5 separate regions of the Homo sapiens genome follow, and regions 1, 2, 3 and 5 are each linked to region 4. Evidence: fine-mapped expression QTL. A gene starts in region 4. Each other region holds a variant in brackets. All regions are shown on one strand. Distances are from middle to middle. Region 1 overlaps KIZ (kizuna centrosomal protein). Region 2 overlaps KIZ (kizuna centrosomal protein). Region 3 overlaps LINC00237 (long intergenic non-protein coding RNA 237). Region 4 holds the start of KIZ (kizuna centrosomal protein). Region 5 overlaps KIZ (kizuna centrosomal protein).

What was found. PIP is the estimated chance that this variant, and not a neighbour inherited with it, causes the effect.
Region 1: its variant is fine-mapped to the expression of KIZ in whole blood (INTERVAL, PIP 0.93).
Region 2: its variant is fine-mapped to the expression of KIZ in whole blood (TOPMed, PIP above 0.99).
Region 3: its variant is fine-mapped to the expression of KIZ in whole blood (TOPMed, PIP above 0.99).
Region 5: its variant is fine-mapped to the expression of KIZ in testis (GTEx, PIP above 0.99).

Annotation. Positions count from the first base shown.
Region 1 is chr20:21,144,063-21,149,167 of GRCh38, reverse strand. KIZ (kizuna centrosomal protein) reads right to left here. Exons shown (of 13, transcript NM_018474.6): 4 at 3,514-3,603. Among named protein-coding and RNA genes, the nearest start is that of KIZ, 21 kb to the right of the region's middle. The variant A/G (reference allele first, on the strand shown) is at 2,659.
Region 2 is chr20:21,242,431-21,247,535 of GRCh38, reverse strand. It overlaps KIZ (kizuna centrosomal protein), which reads right to left. Exons shown (of 13, transcript NM_018474.6): 12 at 3,248-3,291; 13 at 914-1,057. The coding sequence ends at 960. Among named protein-coding and RNA genes, the nearest start is that of KIZ-AS1, 27 kb to the right of the region's middle. The variant C/T (reference allele first, on the strand shown) is at 2,734.
Region 3 is chr20:21,096,482-21,101,586 of GRCh38, reverse strand. The region is part of intron 1 of LINC00237 (long intergenic non-protein coding RNA 237); the gene reads left to right. Among named protein-coding and RNA genes, the nearest start is that of LINC00237, 7.3 kb to the left of the region's middle. RefSeq lists enhancers at 1-805, 5,005-5,105. The variant GCA/A (reference allele first, on the strand shown) is at 2,247.
Region 4 is chr20:21,123,913-21,129,017 of GRCh38, reverse strand. KIZ (kizuna centrosomal protein) reads right to left here and starts at 2,936. Exons shown (of 13, transcript NM_018474.6): 1 at 2,814-2,936. The coding sequence starts at 2,902. RefSeq lists enhancers at 2,418-2,467, 3,368-3,467 and a silencer at 2,628-3,207.
Region 5 is chr20:21,159,357-21,164,461 of GRCh38, reverse strand. KIZ (kizuna centrosomal protein) reads right to left here. Exons shown (of 13, transcript NM_018474.6): 5 at 1,955-2,591; 6 at 1,303-1,612. Among named protein-coding and RNA genes, the nearest start is that of KIZ, 36 kb to the right of the region's middle. The variant T/C (reference allele first, on the strand shown) is at 3,122.

The DNA of each region.
Region 1 (5,105 bases), 20 kb before region 4:
TCTGGGTTTGAATATTGGTTCTGCCTGGTTGTGTAGTTTTCGGCAAGTTAACTAAATTTTCTGAGCCTTACTATAAAATGGGGACAACAATATCCTCTACTTCCAGGGTTGTTGAGAAGATTAAATGAGTTGATACACATAAAGTGTTAACGCAGCACCTAGCAAAGTAAAAGTGCAGTGATTATTACCCATTGTTACTACCAGTATTAAAAGTGGGAATAACACCTTTATAACCATTCTCCCACCTGATCCTTGCAGGGAGGGTTACCACAGTGGAAGTGAAGCTCCTCAACAAGCCTTCAGCTCTGTGATGAAATTCCCTGGTCCTCCACACCTATCCATCCCTGACAGAGTATGATCAGTTTGCTTCTATTTCTAGTAGAATATATTTCACAGCATAATAGTTCAAAGAAACCTTACAACCCTATCCCCAAATGTATACTGTCATTCAAAAACGCCATCTCAATCTTTCTTGAGGACATACATTTTTATGTGTTTTTATGTATATTCTCTAGTCACCGTTCTTCAACCAGAAGAACATGTCTGGAAACAGAGTTTGCCCCCAAAATAAAAAATAACAATATATATAATAGAGGTGAAGAATTACTATAGTAAAATTTGTGAGGATCTGAGTGGGGCTTGAAATGTGCCTTTTTGGTAAGACACATTTTTTGTAAGCTGACTAAGTAAATTAATAGTGGAAACAAGCATGGCAGATGAACAGACTAACTATTAATCCTTCTAAGCGAATGTATGATTCTAAAGAGCAACTACTGGATGCAAGCAAATAATAGATGTCCTACACCAAAACTGAGCCAGAGTTTTTATATTTAAAAAATGGACACACACCACTTGATGACTTTTCTTGGCATCCAAGTTACTGCCTATGGTTGAAAGCTGTATAGCCACTTAAAAAATACCTTTTTATAATTCAGAATGATCACCAATTTGATAGATCCTCTCCCCTTTGTTAGTGTTTTCCACCTCAATGGCCATCCCCAATACAGGTCCTCCATTCTGTTAATTCCTCCTGTCTGAATGGAGCCTGATTTCCTCAGTTCCACGTACTCCTCCCCAGGCTCATCCTGCACAGCACTGCCAGCCTCATCTTCCCGCAGCTGCACACATGGGATGTGACTGCTCTGCTCACAAGTCCTTCCTTCATCTGCTGCCACACACACACACACACACACACACACACACACAAATTCCAGGAGGAAATCTCAGTTCTTAGCCTGGGACCATAGTTCCAGGTACCAAATCCCACAAGGTAGCTTTCCAAGCTCATTTTCTACCACTGACTGGCATCCTGCACATCCTTCTATGCCAGCTCACACACCACCTCCTCCACCAGGGCTGGGATTACTCAATTCACAGGAAGCAGAATCTTCTTTCTTCTCATTGCTCATGTTTGTCCCACGTGACTGGCACTTTATCACACACTATTCTGTGCCTTAGAAAGAACATTGCTTTCTGAGAAGCACTCTGAAGGTAAGAAAATTGTGGCCTTCATAGAGGGGCCTACTGTTGCTTCTCAAAGAGAACTGATGCTTAACAACTATTTATTGATTCAACCAGTGACTGTACTATGCTTCAGGAAAGGCCCTGGAGGTCAATGACCAAGACCAATTCATATGACTGCCCAAAGAAGAGAAGCTTGGATTTCCACTAAACAATAAGCTATAACTCATATGATAAGGAATGGTTCAGGAATTAGTATAAGGATTAACTAAAACATGATTTTGCTGAAATGTATTTACCTTTTAATTGGTTGAACATCAATGGAAAATTAGAAAATGCAAAATATAAATTTCTCAAAGTGTTACCTAATCGATTCTTATACAGCCAATAGTCAAAGCTTTTAAGGAAATGACACCTTTCCATATAAATGAAAAGACTTCTAATTATTATATGTAACATTTTAAGGGGTTGTCAACTGTATGTCTCTTGCCCTAATTTTAAATATGTCCTAAAAGGAGACTCCACAACTACATGCAAGGTAAAGAATCAGTGGGTAAATAAAGAAAAAAAAAGCTTCCGTTTTCCTGAAGTACCATTGACACTGCCGTGCTAAGAATATGTCTATCAAGAATGGCATAGAAAGAACTAACTGGCTTCTAGATTAAAACACATCAATTATTTCATGACCGAATATCAAATAGAAAAACTGCCTGAATGCTCTAAAATTCTATCACATCATACCACATTTGGCCTACATCGAATGGCATATACGTCATTTATCATTAAAGCCTTTTTATATAGGTCAAGGTTGCTGGGGCTTGGTGTTTTGTATCTTACAGTTTAAAGAATGCTCTAAGTTCTAGGGTTTTTTTTTTAATTTTTTAATCTATGAGGAAGGAAAACGAAAACTTCCTATAAACTCAGATTAATGCCTGCTAATGCACGGAAGAAAGAAAAACTAAAACCTTCCTCCTACTATAAAAACAAAATAGTGTGGCCTCTGTTTCTTTTCTGATAAGAGTCTTAAATACCCAACAGTTAACTGCATAATAACATTTACTGGCAGCCAGGCAGCCTGCTTAGCAGATATATAAAGCAGGTAAAAGGAGAAAAAGTTAATTTCTTGGCTGAATGATTCCATCGGTAGCTATAGGGCAAACCTGAAAGTCTTTTAGTAAAGTAGCAGTTGATTCTTCT[A/G]TCAATCTGTAGCACACACACTCTTCCAAGGAAAGCATTAAATATGAAAATCATATCCCGTTATCATCTGTTTCCAGCTTTCAGCCCAGTAAGCTTTTCTTAATGAATGCTGCAGCCTAAGGAACAAGCACGCTGTTGGCTTTTCTGAATAATGGAGTGATGCTACCATTTTTGCTTATTACAATATCGACTGGCTGAGGGGGTTTCACACATAGTCACAAGTGACTACTCTTGCCAGCATGCTCCAAGTTATTACAAGATGTTTTTAGACATTTCATCTAAAAGAGCTTTACTGCTTTTAGTGAAGAAAACATCTACGGTCTTGAACAGAATCATTTATATGGAGATAGGCAGGAGGATTAGAAGCCTGCATTATAGCAGATACATAGCAGAATTTATTTAAGTATTCCTTGTCGATCTTTTTGTCTATTGCTTAGATATGCAATCTTTTCTTTCCACGTTTTCTGTGCAAAGGTTAAAATGTACAAAATTATGTATATTCGCACAAATAAAAGAATCAAAATGCCATATTTTGTTTACTTTTCATTTAAAACACTTCTCAAACTAAGAAAAGAGCAGCTACAAGGCATGATTTAGAAAAACAATTTTACCTACTGACAACACTGAGGTTTTCTTTAGAGTCTATCCTTTCTTCACAAAGTAACACCCTTTCAGCAAACTTAATTAAATTAGACATTAAAGCAATATTCTGTAAGCAAAAATCTTTAAATAATCACGTAAGGTTTAATCAAAGGGATCTTCCTAATAAGATGATTTTATTTAAAACAATATCTCAAGATATAAACACTCCAGAATTCCTCTGTTAACAGAAAGGTTACCAATTTAGTTTATTACCTTTTCTCTGTCTTCATCTGTCAGTTCCTCTTTTAGTCCCAGGCTATCTTTTGAGCATAGCATCTTCTTAATTTGAGTCTCATATTCGAGCTAAATATAAAGAAAGTTTGATTTTGTGATAAATATTTTTACAACTAGCACCTGTCTGTATACTGCGGTCTTTACAACATACAGGGAGCATTGAAGTAGAAAGTAAAAGCTGATGTTGCCAAGAAATTCACCTTATCTTAGAAAATGAACAATTTTGCAAATGACACATATCAAAAGTTGAATTTTACAAAATGCTACAATTTTTAAATAAAATAAGATTTGATGGATTTTTACTTTCATCAACTTAGGAAATAAAATCTTTATATATATACACATGTATATGTGTATATATATGTATACAGTTTGATACTTTATCACAAAAATACAATTCCTTTATTATGAAAGTAGCACATTAGACAGTGTTTCCTTTTAGAAGTTTTGCCCCAAACAAACAAAAAAAATCAATCCTACTGATTTCTTATCTATATGATATCTACAAAATATCATGATTCTGATCGTCACAGCAATTGAGCATACTTGCTAGATCATCAACTTAAAACAAATTCCATTTTCTATGAATAAAAATATACTGCAGACATCAATGATCAGAAACCAATTTGCTCTGGCACTAATAACTACATAAAGATGTCTGCATCATCACCACACTATAATTGGTGAAAGTGATTCAATCTTAAAATGGCTTTTTCTTAAAAGCAAGGCATAAAAAAGCACTTTGATTCAGTACGCTAGTAATTAAAGCCTTAAAAAAGTCATGGATTGTGGTCCATCAAAGATAAGTATCAGAACATTTTCTAAATTAGGCAGGTATGCACTGTAATTAGAAACACACCTATGAGATGAAATGAGAAAGCTGTTTCCTTAGTTCTCTGAACATAAAATAGGCCTGAGCTTTGTTTTGACATACGAAAAACAAATGGGCAATAATAACCAAACTGATTTGTTTCCCTCAAAATATTTTGAAAGGTAATATATGCTGTCTCATTTTTAGTAACAGTTAGGTATGGATTTTTTTTTCTCCAGCAGAGTACTATATGATAGATGGCAGTAATTCTCTAAATAGATACCCAATTAAATGAAAATTTTATCAGGCCAGTACAAATGATAAAATAATAAACTAGGAATAGATAAAGCAATAACAAAGATACAATTTACATCTCTCTGTTCCATATCTATTCCTCTGAACTTAGAGATGTTTACATTTTAGCCCCAAGAGCTTTAAACAGGCATCCTTTACAGATTCCAAGGGATAGTATCTCAAAAAGAAATGGGGGATGAATTACAATATAAACATATAATTACAGGTTAAATAAAAATTCTTTTTTCTTGTGACTACAAATGTTTTCTTACGCTCTTTGAGATCAATGAGCATTGTACCTGATTTCCTCATTATAGGATCATTTCAGAGCCATACCTTCCAAAGACAGAGCACTTTCTCATAGAAATATGAGAGTTTTATTCAATTCATTTTGCTGAAGGAAAAAGGAAGTGATAACTGCATAAAGTCTTCCTAAAGAACAGAAAGAAGTATCTTTAAAAGCCCA
Region 2 (5,105 bases), 120 kb before region 4:
TTCTAACACAGTTTTGTAGTTTTAGCTCTTACATTTAGGTTCTTGATCCATTTTGGTTAATTTTTGTATACAGTGTGAGGTAGGGATCCAAGATCATTCTTTGGCCATGTGGCTATCCATTTGTCCCAGCATCATTTGTTGAAATGGCTATTCTTTATCCCATTGAGTAGCAGAAATTGTTACCCTTGTCAAAAATTAATTGACTAAATGTGACAGTGTTTTTGTATTCTCAATTCTAGATACATATGAATCAACAGAGTCAATATTCCATTGATTTCTGTTTATCTAGTACCACAGTATCTCAATTACTGTAGCTTTTCAGTAAGTTTTGAAATAAGGAAATGTGAGAAATCTAACTCTATTTTTTTTTTTTTTTTTTTTTTTTTTGAGAAGGAGTCTTGCTCTGTCACCCAGGATGGAGTGCTGTGGCGTGATCTCGGCTCATTGCAACCTCTGCCTCCCAGGTTCAGGCAATTCTCCTGCCTCAGCCTCCAGAGCAGCTGTGATTATAGGTGCATGCTACCACGCCCAGCTAATTTTTGTATTTTTAGTAGAGATGGGGTTTCACCATGTTGGCCAGGCTGGTCTTGAACTCCTGACCTCAAGTGATCCACCCGCCTCGGCCTCCCAACTGTATTTCTTTTGCAAGATTGTTTTGGCTATTCTGGGCCTCTTGAATTTCCATATGAATTTAAGATCAGCTGGCTAATTTCTAACATAGAAACCACCTTGAATTTTGATGGGCATTGCATTCATCACTTTGCTTCATGATGAACTTAAAAATGAATATGCAAGTTCATATTTATGTCATAAAATTTCACTTGAATAGCAATGTAGTCCTAAGTTTTCCCATAAAACAGTGAGAAAACTTAAAAGAACATATTTATTTTGGACATCACATATTAACACAGGATTTTAGTTTGTTTAAAGACTTTATTTGAAACCAATGTCACAGCACGTTAGTCATAAAAATCATCAGAATCATCGGTGTTATGGTTTCTGGGGCGTAAAGCAGCCTCAATTTCTGAGTTACTGTCATCAGACTCATCCCAGAGGGCTGGAAAATAAAACCAGACAGTTATTTAACATTTTTGCATTCTGGTTAAGAGCTTACAAAACAGCACAGCACGGAAGGACTGGTTAAGCAGAGTGTCAGTCTGCAAAATGCATAACAGGGACACCACATGATGTACCTGACCAGACACACCCAAATGCATGTCATACTGCACAAATTACACATTGCAAAGTGTGTCCTCTGCACTGTTATGGAAAACAATTTGCAGAATACTTCCTTTTCCCTTCTGTTGTGCCCAACTCTTTATTATAGGATAGGGATTTAAGGTCAGGGTTACATGGAAGCAGGGTTCCCTGGGGTGTTGTATCAGCCTGATGCCGCCCCACCTCAGCTGCCCCTCCACTTTCATCTCCCATTCTTCTTTATGAGAGCAGAGAGGAGAAGGGAAAGACGTGGCAGAGGAATAAGCAGAGATGGTTACCCTGAGACAGGACTTTGGTCCACATCATTTACTTGAGAGGTGATCCCAGGAACCATGGGGACAGTGACACAAGGAAGACAGGAAGCCAATGAAGGGTATGATGACGAGTGGGTGCCTGGCAGTGAGTGGACAGGCAAGGCTCAGCCTGCTGGGGCCCCCTGAGAGACTGCAGAACTCTCCCCAGATTGTCCCAGTGAAGAGCAAGGGAGTGGGGTTACTGATCCACCAACTTGCCTCTGTTGGTTGAGGGTTGCTCTCAACCCAGGGCATCAACTCCCTGGTACTTTGGGCTGCCTTGTGAGGGCTGAGCACGCTCCTGCAGCCAGAGAAAGCCCTCAGGCAGAGAGACACAGCTGCTTGGTGCAGGAAGCTGTAGGCGCGTCTGTGAATTGGAGCTGAGGTGCCCTGCAGGTGGTCTGGCAAGGTGTAGTGGAGCGGACCACGTCTACTACATCAACAATCCCTTAACTCTGCTGACACCTGCATGGCACCACCTGCCAGCTCTGTGCTGACTTCTCATACACAACCCCATCTCATCCTCGCACCAGCCTGGCAAGGTAAGTATTAATGTTTCCATTTCACTGTGCAAACAAACGGACGCTGAAGGGGGTTAAGAAATTGGCCACAATCACAATGCCAGTGAGTGGCCAAGCTGGGAGTCCCATCCAAGTCATCTGACTCAAGCCCATACTCTCCATCACAACCCACTGGGTACTTGTCTCCCCCACAGTAGGTAGCTGTCCTTCTAGAAGAGTGATTCACAGTGGGGTGCTTGCTAAAAAGGCAGATTCCTAGGCCTAGGTTCTACAGCAGCTCTGAATCAGTTTCCATACTGGGTTAGCAAAGTGGGACATACTGGGGCTAAATAAACAGCGAATATTTTTGTTATTGTCAGTAAAACTATTAATCAAATTATACCTTTAATTTAAGGTATAAGGGGTTTAAGGAGACAGGAGGTGAGAGAGCCCAAGCTGGGCAGGGGATATGCCACAGTGTTATGGTAGGAGGGCTAGATTTTTCCCGTGAGTTGGGTGTTGAAGGATGAATAGGAGCTCACTGGGCTGAGGAAAAGGAAAAGGAACTCCCTACAGAAGGAACAACATGGGCAAAGGTACAGAGGCATAGGTGTGCTACAGCTGAAAAAAGCTGACTGTGGCTTGACCCAAAGAGGCGACCTTGGGAGGAATAAGCTGGAGAGCAGGGCTGGGGCCTCCCAGGAATGGAGAAAGCTCAGACT[C/T]TACCCTGAAGGTACGGGGAGGCATTGGCCGTCCTTACACAGGAAGGTCGGGGGAAGCCAGGGTTTGGAGGCTGGTGGCCAGGTGGAGGAGCTGGGAGTTCCCAGGAGCTGGGAGGAACTGGGTATGAGGAAACCAGTTAGAGTTACTCCAAGAGCCTGTCCGGTCATGAGCAATGGGTGCTTCTGAGGATGAGGAGAGAGGCAAGAAACATTTCATTGGTAAAATACAGGGTGCTGATAATTAATTAGACATGGAGGCCAGGATCCCCTGCAAATTCATACTTGCAAATTACAATGCTCTGCCCCTGTGGTCCATGGCACCCGTGTGGTCCTGTCTGTGAAGAACTGAGCCTCCAGAAGCCCTCAGGTTCCACCCCAGGGACAGCTGCAATGGCAGTCCCTGTGAGCATGCCCGCTTCAGGACTCACATGAGGGTGCAAACAACAAATGCATGTCACAGAGTTTTTTGGTTAAAACAGAAAAAGAAAATCTAGTGTCCGATTATCTCTCTCACCATTAGATTTTAAATTGATCACGGGTTTCTTTTTGTTTTCATGCCTGCAAAATAAAGAAACAGTCTAAGTTCTGAAAAAGAAAAGACAATGAGACTAATATTTTCATAATGAACGCATTAGAGAAGAAGCACTTTGATTCACTGGAGGCCAGAACTTTACACTTACTTCCCAGAGTTTAAAAGTAAAGGGAAAATATCGGGATGCAGCGTGGCCTTGTCGGGAGGGTCGCTACTCAACAGCATTGCTCCCGTCCTGCGTGTGTCCCCTCGGCAGGTCTGCATGGCCCACCCCGCCCTGCTGAGCTGTGCCTGTGTGGGGCCACGTGTTCTTGGGGGAGGATGATCGCATGTTCCCCTGAGGCAGGGGACCGGTTTCCCTCAACAGTCTTCTGGAAGACAGTGATGCATCAAACTTCAGTGCTTTCAGGCAAGCTAAAAATGAAACACTTGCAGTAGGGAATTCAAGATGTTGGTAAGGAAGTTAAAATACTTAGTCAAACCAGTGGCAGCAATACTAACAGTTAAGAAAGGAGTTCAAAACAAACACCTGGTAGAGGGCCCTGCAAGTGTCACATAAATGCTAGTGTTCGTGGCGTCCAGGACCGTCTCGACTGAGGCCAATATGACAAGAAAACTGGCTCCACGGGATATGATTTCTCTGTGTGCCTTTTCAGGAGCTTTTGCAATTTTAATGAATTTAAAAGTCTCCTCAGGGAGTGTCACTCGAATGTTTTATGATGCTGAGATTCTTTCAGAATTGCCTGAATGGTCACAGGAGATGTTGGGAGAGAAACCATTCTTGGTGCATGGCTCGACACTTTGCCCTACCCCACGCACCACCACCGCCCTTCTCACAGCCAGGGCCTTGTTCTTCTGGACACAGGAAACCCTGCAAATATATCTTTTCCTTCCCTTTGGGCCAAGTGTGGTTGACTTTTGGCTTAAAAATCTACGTTTTGCTATAATTTACTTTTTTTTTTCAGAAAAACATGCTCCACTAAGGTATCATTTTCTAGGCTACCTTTCAGTGTTCCCTTTAAATTTAGTGCCTGTTTCTTTAATTGCCATGACTGAGTAGTGCTCACAGCCATTTCTCCATGAAGCATGGAAGACCCCTACGAGCATCTGGAAAGGCCAGCAGCTGACTGACAGTCCTGGAGCTGCCAGGATTGTGGGGACCTGTCAGTGAGGTGAGCCTGCAAGAACCCATTTTACAGAAAGTGACACACACATCACACACACACTAAATGCAACTGCAGGGATGTCTATTATTTCCCCACCTCCCCCTACCTGAGGACACTGGGCTAGGTGCTGCAGGGGAGGGTGGATTATAAAAATGCTAGGAGGGGTGGAAAGAGGCTAATTTGCCAGCCGCGGTCCATACAAGAAGAGCCACAGGGGGAGCAGGAGAGATCTCTGCCAGCTGGGTGGATGGAGAGCACTGTGGCAGGTGATTGGGGGAGCTGCAGGACCACAGAGGAAGCCCGGCACCTCCAAAGGCAGAGGCCTTCACAGGACAGGACTGGGGAACAAGGTGTGGCGGGGTGGGGCAGCAGGGAGCCCCTGACACAGGAGAAAGGACACAGTGGCAGGTGAGCTCAGCTCCTCCCGTCTCAGCAAATGGCACCCCTGACCCACTAGTCTCCCCAAGCCCCTCTCCAGTCTCCACTCCTCTTTCCTTCACATCCAGTCTGGCCCTCGGTCCTGCCAATTCCACCCCCACCCCTCTCGACCCCCCTGCAATACTTCCTGCAGTCCTCACCAGTTCCCTGGGCACTGCCAGTACACTGGTCAACAAAACTATCAGCTCTTGCTTCTCTCTCTGCAACAACCTCCTAACTGGTGACACACACTCATC
Region 3 (5,105 bases), 27 kb after region 4:
ACCTGGGGCCCGAGCCCCTGGAGCTGGCGGCCGCGGACTGCGTCCCTGGGGACACTGGAGGGGACTCCAGGGACAGCGTGGGTGGGCCTTTCCCCCGCACGCGCCTCTGTCACTCTCTTTCCGGGCCAGAGCCGGGGCAGCGCTCTAAATTAAGGTCGACCTCCAGCGCTGGGTGAAGTCTTGAGTCCGCCCGGGAGCCCTAGGTGAGGGTGGTCGCGGTTTGGCGGGGGCTAGCGGGTCAGCCCCTATTTCTGCCCCCACCCCGATTGCCTCTCGATGTCGGCCCCCGCGCTCCCTCCCTCGCCGGCGCTCCCTCCCTCGCTCGCGCTCCCTGTACGTCGCCGCGTTTACCAGCGCGTTTTGTTCCCCTGTCGGATTCCCGGCCGAGGGGCTGTAACCGTGTTCTCCTCCGATGGACGCTAATCAAGTAATTTCCCCATCCCAGCCCCATCAAATTGCTCTTTAGCTGTTGAACCGCGGAGTTTTGCTCGCCTTTTCACATGCTAATCACGCCCATTCAGCGGCTCTCGGTGGGGCTGTTTGTCGCGGGATAAATCTCCTTGTTTGCCCGCTGCATGATTAATTGATATTGTTGTCTGGCTTTTGTGGGGACTGCGAGGAGCTGAAAGGCGGCGCGTCGTGGCTGCGCCGGGGCCGCTAGCGACATCATCGGGCTGCCGAGGTCCCGGCGAGGTCGGGCCGGGGCTGATGACATTATGGGCCCGATTTGGTTTTCCTTGTTAGAAACATGATGAAAGACTTGGAAACCTCCTGTCTTACAACCCACCAACTGGGTGCAGAAACCGCCCGGCGTTTAAGCCACAAGCTCAGACAAAGCCCTGGTGTTTGCTCAATTCAGGGGAAAAAGTGGGTGTCACTTCTCCACGCAGGAGACAATTAAATCTTATTTCGGCCCACCCGGGATTTCAACAGAGTTGAACATGAACGCACAGCATAGTGGTTTGGTTTTACAAAGAACAAAAAGAAAAAAAAAATGTTTTTGGGGTTAGCGGTTGTAAAAGCAGGAACCAAAGGTTAAAACTCCTAAAAAATAAGTAAACGGAAGCCAGAGCCTCCCTTGTAGGCAGCGGTGGAGGAAAGTTGCGCAGAGGCGCTTCCACGCCGGGCCCCTAGCGATGCAGTTTGCGGAAACGCCACTCCCTTCGAATCGCCGGCTTCGGTGAAACCCCGGGCTAACGCTGGGCTCGCGCGATTCCCAAGGCCCGCGTCCGTCTACAAGCCAATGTTTTATTTGACATTACTGGTCCCGGCTCGTGGCTGTATTTTGCCGCCGCCCGCAGGTGTACAGTCAAACCAACAGATTCCTCCGCCCCCTGTACCCCTCCCACCCTCTCCGCTGAGCACTGGGGTTTTATCCTCTACGGGCATCCCTAAAAACTTGAAGATTCAATTAAATAATTCCAGCTACGAAGTGCTACTACCGCCTGCTTATTGCAAATATTTCCTTTTTCGAGTTCTTAAAAAAGAAAAAAAAGCGAAGAGAAGAAACTGTCGCTTTCGCTTTCACTGCGGGCGGGGTAATTGATAGGCGCCATCGGAGGTCAGAATTTGCATAAGAATTAAGAGCAGTAAATTAATTTAATATTCCATGCACATCTCCAATTATTCCTGGAGACCTTTGTCTCCGCGGCTGCCAGAGAGGGGATTCAGCTGCTCTTCAGCCAAACAACATCTGTGCGGTTAATAATTTGATAAACAGCTCATACAGATAGTTTCTGAATTATCTGGCAGCCCAATGACTATTCAGTTTGGAAACGTTTTGGCAGTGTCTCCCGGAGTCCTCTGAGAGCCTCAAGCACCCGCCCTGACAAATGTCTTCTTATCTTTTAAACATCAGCAGACGACAACGTGTAAAATAAGTAATTATCATTAAGTAATAACTCTAACCCTTATATATATAAAAAAAGAAGGGCGCCTGGGTCATCAGGGTGTCAGCAGGTCGTCTGTCAGGTACCCCAAGATGAAGAAATATGTTGGGGAGTGGGGCTGGGTGAAGAATGACCTGAAGGGGAAGAGAAGACCTGGGTGCTGGGAGGGGCTGGATGGGGATAGGGAGCTGTGTTTTTAAAGATCATGGATTGAAATTGAGTGACAATTCGCGCATGGAAATATCTGCAAGGAAGGCTCACAGTTGCCACTTGAAAGGAACCAAGGTAGGTGGGCTACAGGGAGACCAACTTTCCACTGTGCTGTTTCTTGAATCTTTCACTTTTCTCCCCACGTGC[GCA/A]GGTGTTGTTTATTTCAAATATAAATACATAAAAATAAATTGCGTTTACCAGAAAGCAGGGTAAATTATTTTGGCTGGATATTGTCCTGCCTGGCTCGGGGCTATCCTCCTCCTGACCACTGTCCTTCCTATCTTCACCTTCAGCCAGTGCACTCGCATCCTGAAAGCAACTTCCCAGAAAGCACAGGTTTATCCAAAACCATGGAGAGGGCACACATCCTTTCACAGATTTAGCCAAAGCACTGAGTTGGCCCAAACTGGAAAGGAGGCACTTGTAGAATGAGGCTGCTGTGTTGTTAAAACAGGCCTGAATTTAAACACTTACCCCTTGCTCTTCTTGTCTCTACACTAAAGATTTCATGGCTGCGATTATGTTCTTTTATCTTTCTGTTACCCAGAGCAGAACCTGTTCCTGATAAAAAGCCTAGAAAGGAACCATTTGATCTTGAATGAGACTCGGGATGCTCTAATTCGTGCAACCTGCACATTGCAGCTCTGTTTACTCCAAGCCTGTGTTTACCCTGGAATTGTTCTGCACCCTCTGCAATATAATAGGATGTTCGAGGAGGATCTTTATCTCTCTGTCTATACATTCCCACATGTTTGATGTATACACCTCACCCATTCAATATTCTACTTTCTATTTCCTATACTGCTGACAATCTAAGTACTTGAAGCCACTGAAAACTACCTAGAAGTTCTGAGGAGTGTCAAAGCAGTAACATGCTAGAGCTTTGTCCTGGTACTCTAATGAGCCCAGGTAGCATTGAGCTTTAAATACAGGCAAGCCCTTCAGACTACAGGTTTAAATATACAACTTTACAATGAATACAATGCTTGCCTGGGCTCAATTGAAGAATTACTTTTCCAGAAAAGAAGTCATTGTGTCACAAGAGTATGACAATAGCATTTCTACCGGGCACATTCATTTCTATTTTCAACATTTTCTTCTTGCATTTCATTAGTTTTTTTCCCCATAGAGCTATAGACACTGCTGGGCCATGCAGGCTTTTATACATATAAAAATGATCTCTGCTATTTATGATTGGGGGTCTCTGTCTGCATCCTATTATTAATTTCTGACTTTGATTCAGACTCCTCTAGTCAGCAGAGTGATTTGAAAACATTTCTTTTCTTAAATGGAACATTTTCAATCCTTTGGGGAACCATGCTAATTTTAAACACCAACATATTCAGTTTCTTAATCTGCAGCCACTGGTGTTGCTCATTTTTATATACAGAACCTATCCCCTTTGGCGCTAGTTCATTTATGCTTGATATTTATCTTCTTTACATTTGTTTGACTATTTTTCAAGGCAGTATATGGGCAGGAAATGGCTACTAAACAAGAAGGCAGGGAGCTTGTATTATATTTTTGACTATGTCAGTAAAGCTACAGAACATGGAAATGTTGAGAATTTTTTTTTAAACTAATGAGCCCTCTCCAGAAAAGCCGTCTGGATACCATTAAAGTTGATGAGTTTGGAAGGCTTATCCTGATAAATGCTTGGCTTTTTTGGTGATTAGACACATATTTTCAACACAGTCTACTAACTGAGACTGAGGTTTGCATTTGGAGAGAGGTTTGTTGAGCATAACAGGAAATTGTTGGGGGGAAAAATCCAAAGTACCACTTTACTGTATAGGGTTCAAATCAGAGGTAACTGCTACTCTTGTTCACTTGCACAAAAATATTAGAAATATAATAATGAGTTGTGTCCAATAACTTAAATGAAATAAACCTTGGTAATTTTCAACCTACATGTAAAAAAATATACACCTTATATCTTGGGAAAAGTTAAAGAATGGTTAAGGCAGAATAACGATTTTAAAATTTAGTACAATCTCTATGGAGCATAAAGGATTTTTTTTTTAAATTGACATAAAAGAACAGTGCAGAGCCATTTAACAAATTTTTCCAATAAACAATTCATTTGCTTTCATTGCCCCCTTTTTTTAATGACCATTTGTACATTGGCCAACTTAACCCCAAATCCAGTCAAAAAGTGAATTTGAAAAATTCAGGTTAGCATGTAAAAGTTATGAATAGGATCCGCTTAGATAAACCTGTCACCTTTCATTTTCTTCTATTTTAATGTATAAATGAGCTGTGCTGGGTGGGCTTAACCTTCTAGCATTTCCATCTGTGATACAGAGTTCCAAAAGAAACAGCTTTGTCGGCCTGTGGATAATTGGAAGCTACAGAAGCAAGTTCAGGTTCTTCAGAGATGACTGCAAAATATCTCTGATATCCATAGATTTCAGCTAGCCCCGTGGTTCTTTCCTCTCCCTCTCCTGGCTAGGATTCCAATCCGACAGGTTGAGTGTCACATAGGGGTGCCCTTCCCATCATTGTTGATTTGTGTGGTTTGTATGGTTTCTAAGACATTGTTTTGGTGTTTGTCAGTAAAGTAACAGGTGCATCTAAAAATCTGTACCACGGGGCTACATGGGCTAGCAGTGAGGCTGGCTGGCTCTGTTTGAAAGCATAGGGCCTTATGCTATTTGCTTTGGCCACAAAGTCCAATCTAGCAACCTCATGTAGGCTGAGCCTGAGAGGGCCTCCAACGGCTTATTCTGCTTTGCTGCTTCTGTGATGAGGGGAGATGAACCTTGCAGAATACCAGACTCTTCAGCATGACATTTGAGCCCTGTTGCAGTCTGGCTGGAATCCAAGTGAGGGGAGTAAGGAAAAAAATAGTGTGCAGAAAGGCTTATAGTTCCACTTGTCCACTAACTAGCTATAGGCACTTTGGCAACAAACTAATCTTCCAGGGTCGGAGACTCCTGTCTGCCACTCGTCATCATTTATTCTATTCTCACTGGGCACACGGCTGACCAGCTGAACTACATTTCC
Region 4 (5,105 bases):
TGCTTACCCATAGTTCATGTTTTCAGTCACCCCTCACTTGGACCTTTCAGTTTTACACAGCTAAGTGGTCCTTATCTTGCTGAGTTTTCTACTTTTAAGCCACTTGTTATTCTGTTTTTGTCTCGATACCACAATTCTATACCATCTTCAGCTTACTCTACTAATATCTCAGTGTCAGTTTCTAGACTATTATGATATCTTACTCTGAATCAATATAGGCACTGAAAAAACCGCGGCTGGCTAATGGGCCCTTTTAAAAGGATGTTTTTGTATAACCGTAAGAGCCAATTCCACTTATAAGTTTCTACCATGCTTGTGGGTGCTATACACACTGTAACAAGTCACTCCATTAGACTCTTTTAGATTCAATTATTGACTTTCACCACAATGCAGAAAAAACACTGTACACACATAGGAAAACATTCAGACGATAAAATTACATCTACGTGTAACTACAGCTAACATGACTTGGGCTGGAAATATGCTGGTTATTTGACCAGCTAACATTGCAATGACCACCTCTAAAAGGGCTGAGAAAGAGGGAGTTTTTTTTTGTCTCCCACTTCCCAGAAGTTTCTGGATTGATAAAGCAGCTGTGACTACCCAGGGTTGCTCCCTATGAAATGACTCAGGAATTTTAGGAGACAGTGGTATCTGTGATCAGTGGGATGCTTTGTGTTTCTTTGTTTAAAAAGGTACAACCAAGGCCGGGTGCAGTGGCTCACACCTGTAATCCCAACACTTTGGAAGGCAGAGGCAGGCAGATCACCTGAGGTCAGGGGTTCGAGATCAGCCTGGCCAACATGGTGAAACCCCATCTCCACTAAAAATACAAAAATTAGCTGGGGTTGGTGGTGGGCGCCTGTAATCCCAGCTACTAGGGAGGCTGAGGCAGGACAATCGCTTGAACCTGGGAGGTGGGGGTTGCAGTGAGCTGAGATCATGCCATTGCACTCCAGCCTGGGTGACAGAGTGAGACTATGTTTCAAACAAATAAACAAACAAACAAAAAGGTACATCCAAACACTCAAATTGGATACAGACAATAATATTCTTTACACATTGCTTTGCAAAACTACAGCTTTCAGCTTTTTTTTCTTTTTTTACTTTAAGGCCCATTATTCTAGCAAAGAGAGAAAGAAAAAAATCTGTGGCCTTACTTTGCATATTAGTCAAGCCCCCTCATTCCTGGTAAAGAACCAAGGTTCAGAGAGGTGGAACAACCTGCTCAAGGTCACACAATTGTTCGTGGACTAGAATCCAGGTTTTGATATTTCTACTGCAGCCTTTTCTGTATCTAGAATTATTTGCCTCTATAACTGTGTCCAGTGTGCATTAATTTGAGTTAGTTATAAATTCTTAAAATGAAAAATGAACACACACAGCAACAGATTTGTACTGACTTAAAAATAAAACAAATCTCGAAATGCAGAACCGTGAACAGGCTATAAAATTTGATTCACATTCCTTATATATTTTCAACAGCCTCACCTTGTTTAATAATTAAATAAGTGTTAATCATAAAGTACATAATTATTATACAGTTATTGTGCCATAAGGACTATAAACAGCCAGGTGTTCCTAGCACAGGAAACAAAAATAACTTACAATTAATAGTTCAAAAAGAATGCCATTTATGAGTGCTGTAAGAATGCCAAGAGTCACAAAAGTTAGGGAATGGGTTGAAACAGGGAAGGCTCTACAGGAAGAGATTTCTTTTTAAAGTCAGAAATTAAGAGGTCACTGATATGGGTGAGCGGTGACATGTCAGAAAGAAAATAGGACGTAGAAAAGGAGTACAAGGTAAAAAAAATGCTAACGACAATTAAGGAAGCCTGTTGTAGATGCTCTATAAATATCTGACAAGAATTAAATCTAGCGTAAGATAAATGTAATTCCTTTTCAAAATCGCTCACTTCTGCCTTTATTTTCCATGTAATTATTGTTATCATTTTAGCACTGTCACGCACACAGCTCTCCTGTTCACTAGAATGATTTTGTAACTTTTAACACTCATTAAATGTTTTGTTTATCAAGAGATCCAAAAATGTATTTCCTTTCTTGTCAACTAATGAGAGTTACAACTCCAATTAACTTAGCAGCTAAATAAGAGGTCCAGCAATTTATCTTTTACGTGGTTATTCATAGTACATTGCGGTATAATTTTCTCTCTATATGCACTCTTAGATCTAGCTGTTTTCAGTGGTTCCCATCTTTCATATCTTAATCAAAGGCATCATGAACCCTCTGGAAGCTGGACTTCTCTAGCTGGAAATTTCATCCCTTCGCTGGAAATCTAGCCAGCCCTCGCTACCCCTAAAAGTCTCCTGAGTTTAAACGGGGGCACATGTTTGACACACACACACACAACCGTCTGCGTTCCAGGACTTGTCATCATTGATGCAGTGCAGCTGTCACGGCGGGATGGCAATTTGAAGAGAGTGGGGAGGGGGCGTGTAAAAGGGGACAAGAGAAACTCACAAGGCTTGATGGAGAGTGACAGGCAGAAGAACTCCCACCTTCACTTCTGGGCAAATTCTGTGACGCGGCCGCATCCTCAAACCGTAGACCAGGCTTTAGCTGCTATTGACGGGGCGGGGGCGGTCTCTCACCTCTCTCCGCTCCCACCCCCAATACAGGGGGTGGCTCTAGTAAACACTGTCCTCCAGGCCCCACTGGGAGCCTGGGGGGCGTTGCGCGCGGGCCTGGGCCCCGGGGAACCTCGGACGGGGGAGCGGGAAGGAAAATGGGGCAGGGCACGCGGAAGACCCCCGGCGCGGGCCGACTCCCCACCCCCGCCCCAGTGCCCTTACCTGTCCCGCAGCCCGTGCTGGAGTTGGCCCAGCCTCTCGTAGTAGTCGGGACTCGACAGGGGCACGGCCGATGCGAGGGTCCGGCTCATGCTGCTGCCGCTGCGCCAGCTCAGCACAGCCTCTGGGTGGCCGTTCGGCCGGGGTTGCCGAAGGAGACCGCCCCACCATGCACCGCGGGTAAACACCGCGCCGGGCCGCCTGCAGGAGGCGGGGCAAGACGCCGTGGGGGCGGGGCGCCGCTGAGGGACGGGGCGGAAGCCGGCTTTGTGGGGGGCGGGACGAAGACCTGCATGGGGCGGGGAAGAGGCGTGGCAGAGGCGGGGCGTCGTGAGGCCGGGGCGGACCACGTCGGAGGGGCGGGCGCTCGGTGCCCTCTCCTCTCTCCCTTGACGCGGTGTCTCCTTTCCCCTCACCTTCCAGGATTCGCACAAGCTACGTTAATGTTACAAGGCGCATTCCCTCCCTTTCTTTCGTCTCTCGCTTGCTTCTTTTCCTCGATCTCCTTTCTTGCCAGGATTTGTTGAGTGCCAGGCACTGTACTAAGCTTGTTCTATTATATCAGCACTCAAAAGCGACACAAAACACCAAGTAAAAAAAGACAAACCCTCAAATGCTAAACAGCCGTGCTCAGCCCCGACAGTGGACCAACCCCTTACTCGAAAATCCGTGCTGAATCTAAGGATTGTTCCAGGTGCCAGTATCGTTGGCGAGAGGGAAAAGTTGATAACTAGTTGCTTGGGAAGCAGACGTTTGTGCAGACAGCTCTAAGGGACAATGCTCCTAATGTCCTGTAGGATCCTCTAGCAGGAGCCCGGGAGCCAGACTGCCTGGGTGTACATTCCCTATCCACGTCCCAGCTGCCAAGCCGTGTGCAAGTCACCCCAGGTTTCCTCATATGTAAAGTGGGAGGCTGTTAACACAGGATTAGTTTAGGATTCGATTGTTAATATGTGTTAGTGTTTATAAGTGGGCCCAGCACATAGAAAGCATCAGGTTTTATTATCATCACCAACGTCGGGAAAAAGCTTCCTGAAGGAAGCCAACCATATTTCAAAACCCACTGGGCAGAAAAATTAAGCCTTAGCCTGCTTCTCTGCCTTCCTTTCCTTTTTTTTTTTTTTTTTTTTGAGACAGAGTCTCACTCTGTTGCCCAGGCTGGAGTGCAGTGGCGTGATCTCGGCTCACTGCAAGCTCTGCCTCCCGGGTTCAAAAGATTCTCGTGCCTCAGCCTCCTGAATAACTGGGATTACAGGTGTGCGCTACCACACCCAGATAATTTTTGTTTTTTTTGGTATTTTTTATATTTTAAGGAGAGACGGGGTTTCACCATGTTGGCCAGGCTGGTCTTGAACTCCCAACCTCAGGTGATCCACCCACCTTGGCCTCCCAAAGTGTTAGGATTACTTGCATGAGCCACCATGCCCGGCCTGTAGAGTTTCTTTAGTCTCTTATTGTTCACTTCTTTTGGTTTCTTTCCTATGCCATTAATTTTACTTACACATACAAGGTGCAAGGTGTGACAAACTAAAATTGTAAGAGAGATGGAACACTCAAAGGCCAACAACACAAAACTATGATTTTACTCAGCCTTCCATTCACATTTGCCAGTTCCAGGGCAAGAGTGTGAATGGAGGCCCTCATACCATCCGCCTAAATATTGAATTATAATTCAAGATAACAAACTTAGGTAAAATACGTGTTCTCCTCTCCACTTTGACCAATATGCCTTCTTAAGAACCTGGACAACCAGGGTGGAATTTAGTTTGCCTGCTTCTCCAGCTCCCCCCAACTCCATTTCCCACCCCAGGCTCAGTCTTGCTTTGTGAGGGGGTCTCATACACTAGCAGGGATGTGTGTGCCCTGCCTCTTCTCCTCCTCTTCTCCAGCCAGCAAGTCCCAACTCTGCCTACATCCCCACCTCAGCCTCCTCTTGGCCGGGCAGTGAGCATGCCAGTGATGGTCACCCTTGCAGGAAAGACCCAGCCAAGAGGCCTTTTAAAGCCTTAGAAAGCAGCTTGGGCCCCTTTGAGCAGGGAAGGTAAGGGTGTTGGGTACTTAGAACGTGTTCTAGAAGAGCATGTGTGTGTATGTGTGTGAGCACCCCAGGTGGGCCTGTCATCTGGCCCTGGGACCTCCTTGCCTTGCGTGGAGCAGCATGGGCAGAGAAGGGCTAGAACAGAACCTCTAATACACAGAAGCCAGGGCAGAGGCCTTCTTGCCCTGGTCCAAGGGTAGCACTGATGTGACTTTTATTTAGTTTTTATTCAGATTATATCCAATTGATTCAGTGGT
Region 5 (5,105 bases), 35 kb before region 4:
CTGTGCCTCTTTGATGAGAGAAGTATTATTACTAGAAAAATCCATTTGGCTTGCCTCTCCAATAAATCAAATTTCCCAATGACAGGAACCATGTCGGTTCTTCCATCCATAGTGCAAGAACTCTGTACTTGGATATGCTCTTAATAAATATTTCCTGAACATCAGTTTGGATACAATCTATCAATTAAAGCCTATTCATAAACTTTTCACCATAAGTAGACAATGAATGGTAAGAGGCAATATATTAAAAGGTACAATGGTGTTCTAAAGAGAACATATGCCGTACAAAAAGGCCCACTTGGCTTTTCACTGCTGCCAGCTTTGTGGAAATGAAAGGGTGACCAGCATTACGGTGTAACAGAAAATTCTGGGGGTGGGGCAGTGGTGTGACATTCAGGCAGACAGGCTGTGGGGTGTTCTGCCCCAGCAGATCCAGTAGACCTACGTGACACCACTCTGCCCCGGCCTTCGTTTCCTCATTTGTAAAAGGTGAGATCTACCTTAGGTTGTTTACTTAGGTTCCTTCTACCCCTAAAAGAGATTTGATGTTATTAATGCCATTTTTCAGCACAAAATCACTTTTCAACAGTTAACAAGTTTTCTACATAGTAGATACACAAGAACTTTCTACAAAGTTTTCTTCTAGCGTCTCCAATCAGTAGCACAAAAACATATACAAATTTTTATCAGTCGGATAATATAAGTTCTCAAATGTATAATGCTGATGTTCCCATTTAACATTAGAGATTCTAATGTTTCCTATTTAGATTCAAAAAAGGAAATCTGGCTTACATATACAATTAGAAGAACTTATTAACTCATATTTAATCAGATGACAAAAATGATAATATGGCAAGGAATATAAGGATTAAGCAAATTAATTAGACATAAAGTTCTCAGACTCTAATGCTGCATTCCTAGTAAGTTTAACTGTCACCTTCTGTGGTACCAAAACTTCAAAACAGATTTATTTTCTGAAAGCCTGGAGAGTAGGGGGTTGGGGAATGACTTATAAGTTAACCAGGGATTATGTGTATATAATTATAAGCTGCAATCACCATGATTCAATGATATTCAAACTTTTAAAGTTTTTTTGTCAAAGAAAGAAGGAAGGGAGGAAGGAAAGAAAGAAGAAAGAAGGACAGAAAGAAAATTAGGTCTTGCCTACAAGATTACTTATGAGACTTAAGGAATTTACACATTCATGGCTGAGTGCTCGATAATACATTCCCAGTGGAATGGTCTCTAGAAATGTCTACAATTAAAAACAGAACAGTAGAAAAAAAAAATTGAATGGCTTACTCTCTTGTTGGTGCGTTAGTGGAGGATTCCTTTTCTGAATCAGGAGAGCTTAGGGTTTGCAAAATACAATTTTTTTCAGTGGATAGGGCAACTCTTTCTTGCTCAGCATGGATTAATTTTAAGGCCTCTATTCCATCTTCTCCCTCCATCTTGCCACCTGGATTTGGCTGTGGTTCTGGGCTCTCTAAAATCAGATCATCTTCACTTATTGAAATGGTAAGGTCACTGCTGGTGCTCCAACTTTCCTCCTCCTCTTCCTGCATTTTTCTGAAGGGCTTTTGTGACTTTGGTTCCCTGTGAGCAAGATGATCTGCAAGTGGCGACATGAACTGATTACCAATCACTGACTTCAGGAGGAAGCAAGGTAACACACAGCAGAATTACTCATCAGTTAAAAACATGGAGAAGCAACCCACACACAATTCATTACGGAACTTAAAAGCTTAAACACGTTTTCAAATGTTTAAAAAAATCACAGTGGGTTTAAAAATCAGCAAATTCACTCCCATGTACATATTTAAGAGTTCATTAGAATGGAATTTGTTGGCAAAGATACTATTTTATGAAAGAGAGATAATTAGTATATTTTGTCCTTACATAAGATCACTACCACCCAGAAAAATCAGCAACCAAACTCAGCCTCTCATCCCACCTGAAACACCTTCCCAAGGAGAATGCTTCTCTTGAGACCACTTATTTTCAGATTCACAGTATTCTGAAACTGGTATCGGAGAGACTGGCGGGCTGGCTCTTTTTTCCTCAACTTCAATATGTTCCCGTGTCAGTATTTCTCCCTCTGATCCGCTGGAACTGTCACACTTTAAATCAGTGGTTCTGTTCTCTGGACTTAATCTTTCCCGTAACGGGGAATTGAGTTCAGCAGACTTTTTGCCTTCAGATAAATTACTCTTGCCATGACGTGTGTTACTTCCTATCTCCAAGCAATGAGTTTGTTCCTCCTCAGACAATACACTGGCTGTGACTGGCATTTTCTCACCAATCTGAAGAGATGCCTTTCCATCTATGTTGTCAGACTTATTTAAGCACTGTGTGTCATTACTAGTTTGTACTACACAGCTGTCTGTCACATTACTGCTCTGGGCTGTCTGTCGGTGTGAATGTGGGTCAGGAATTGAAAAGTTCTTTGTGGGCTGGGGAGATTTGTGCTCTGTACTGAAATCTCTCATGCTTAAGATGGCTGACATTTGGCGGCCCATAAAGATTGTTGCTGGTTGATACAATCCTCTTGACATGGCTGTTCCTGAGTTAATCCCCTCGTGCACTGCAACCTGCAACACCAAAAGAGATGTGAGTTAAACATACTGTGTATAAACAATTAGGTGGGGTTTTTTTTTTTTTCCAGAAATGAAAGGAGGTCAAACAAAGCATGATTATTGAAATCAGCACCTACCATGTATTATTAAACTCATGGCTTCCTACATAATGAATGAGCAAAAAGCAGTAAAGTCCATAGGATTTAATTTTAATAACAATGATAGTTCACAAAACAAATATAGTAAAGAAAGTAAGCCGGGTGTGGTGGCTCATGCCTGTAATCCCAGCACTTTGGGAGGCCAAGGTGGGCAGATCATCTGAGGTCAGGAGTTCGAGACCAGCCTGGCTGACATGGTGAAACCCCGTCTCTGCTAAAAATACAAAAATTAGCCGGGCACGGTGGCAGGTGCCTGTGATCCTAGCTATTCAGGAAGCTGAGGCAGGAGAATCACTTGAACCCGGGCAGCAGAGGCTGCAGTCAGCCGAGATCATGCCACTGCACTCCAGCCTGGAGACTCCATCTCAAAAAAAAGAAAGTATAGAA[T/C]ATGTTTTTGAAAAAAGAAATACATGCTTTGAAAAGACGTCATCAGGAAAGTGAAAATATAACCCACATAATGGGAGAAAATATTGTAAATTATGTATCTGATAAGGGTCTAGTACCCAAAATACATAAAGAAGTCATATAACTACATAATAAAAAGACAAACAGCCCTTAAAAGTGGGAAAAGGATTTGGATAGACATTTCTCCAAAGAAGATATATGAATGGCCAATAAACACATAAAATGATGCTTAATATCATTATTCATTAGAGAAACATAATTCAAAAGCACAATAAGATATCACTTTACCCACTATGATGGCTGTCTTGGTCTGTTCAGGCTGCTATAACAATACCATAAACAGTGCATAAATAACAGAAATTTGTTTCTGATAGTTCTGGAGGCTGGGAAGTCCAAGATCAAGGCAGGCGCCAGCAGACTCTGGGTCTGGTAAGGAACTGCTTTCTCTCAGACAGCATCTTTCTGCTGTGTGCTCGCAGGGTGGAAGGGGCAGGCAAATTTCCACGGGCCTCTTTTATAAAGAAACTAATCCCACCCATGAAGGCTCTGCCCCCTTGATTTAATCACTTCCCAAAGTCCTCACCCTCAAAAACCATCACCTTGGGGATTAGAATTTCAATATATGAACTTTGGGGGGGACACAAATATTCAGCCCATATCAATGGCTATACTAAGAATGACAGGTGTCTTAATTTAGGATTTTTAAGATGGAGAGTACCCCTCCAATAATTAGGAGAAATATGAGATGGAAATAAAGACATTATCACTTACAGGTTCTGGGGAGTACATGGCACACCTGGAGGCCACACACACAAACATCAGGGAGCGCAGGCAGAGAGAGAGAGAAAAGGGACCCGTGTCCTTACATGGTAGAAGCAGGGGTTGAGGGGAAGGACACATGAGCCAATGTCTTTACTGAGTCGCAGGTGTTATCCAAACAGGTTTCCCACAGGCAGCCTGGGGAGTTTTAACTGGTGAGTTTAAAGCAAGGAGGCATGAGTTCTGGGAGGTTACCCAGTGACTGAGAGGTGGTCACTGTGGCATATGGTCCATGGGGGATGCGAAGGTCAGAAGGGCCTGTCAAGCAGGCTGCATCCAGCTGTCCCATAGGGAAGTGGTCACCAGAGAGCAGCTGTGTAAGGCAGGTTATCTGGACCGACCACACTGAGGAACTGCGAAGGAGGGTGGAACTGCCAACTGTGTCAGGGGTGACTGAGTCCTGCTTCTGGTATGAGAAGGTTCAACTTAGATTTAAAATGGATGCTGAGGCAACATAAAATTATAAGAATTCACTACAACAGGCAATAACGAGTGTAGTCCAGGATGTGGAGAAATTAGAATCATACACTGCTGATGGGAATATAAAACGGTGCACCCACTTTAGAAGAGTTTGGCAGCTCCTGAAAAAGTTAAACAGAGTTACCATCTAACCAGCAATTCCATATCTAGGCAGAAGTACGGAGAGTGTAAACATATGACTACACAAAATCTTGTAAAAGGATGTGCATAGCAACATTATTTATGATAGCCAAAAGTGGAGATAACTCCAATGGCCAACATTAGATGACTAGATAAAATGTAATACATTCATACAAGAGAATAATTTTCAGCCATGAAAAGAGATGAATTACTGATACCTGTTACATCATGGATGAACTTTGAAAATATCATGCTAAATGAGAAGCCAGTCATAAAAGACCATATACTGTAAGATCTCATTTATAGAAAATGTTCAGAATAGGCAAATTTTTAGAGACAGGAAGTAGTTAACTGTTTGCCCCAGGCTGGGGACCGAAGGGCTGGGGTGGGTGGTGGGGAGTAGAAGGAATCGGGGGGAGGTAAACAGTGATTCCCAACAGGTATGGGGTTTCTTTTTCAGGAATGAAAGTATGCTAACATTGATTGTGATTATGGCTGCGCAACTCTGAATATAATAAAAACTATAAAGCTATCACAAAAAAAGAAA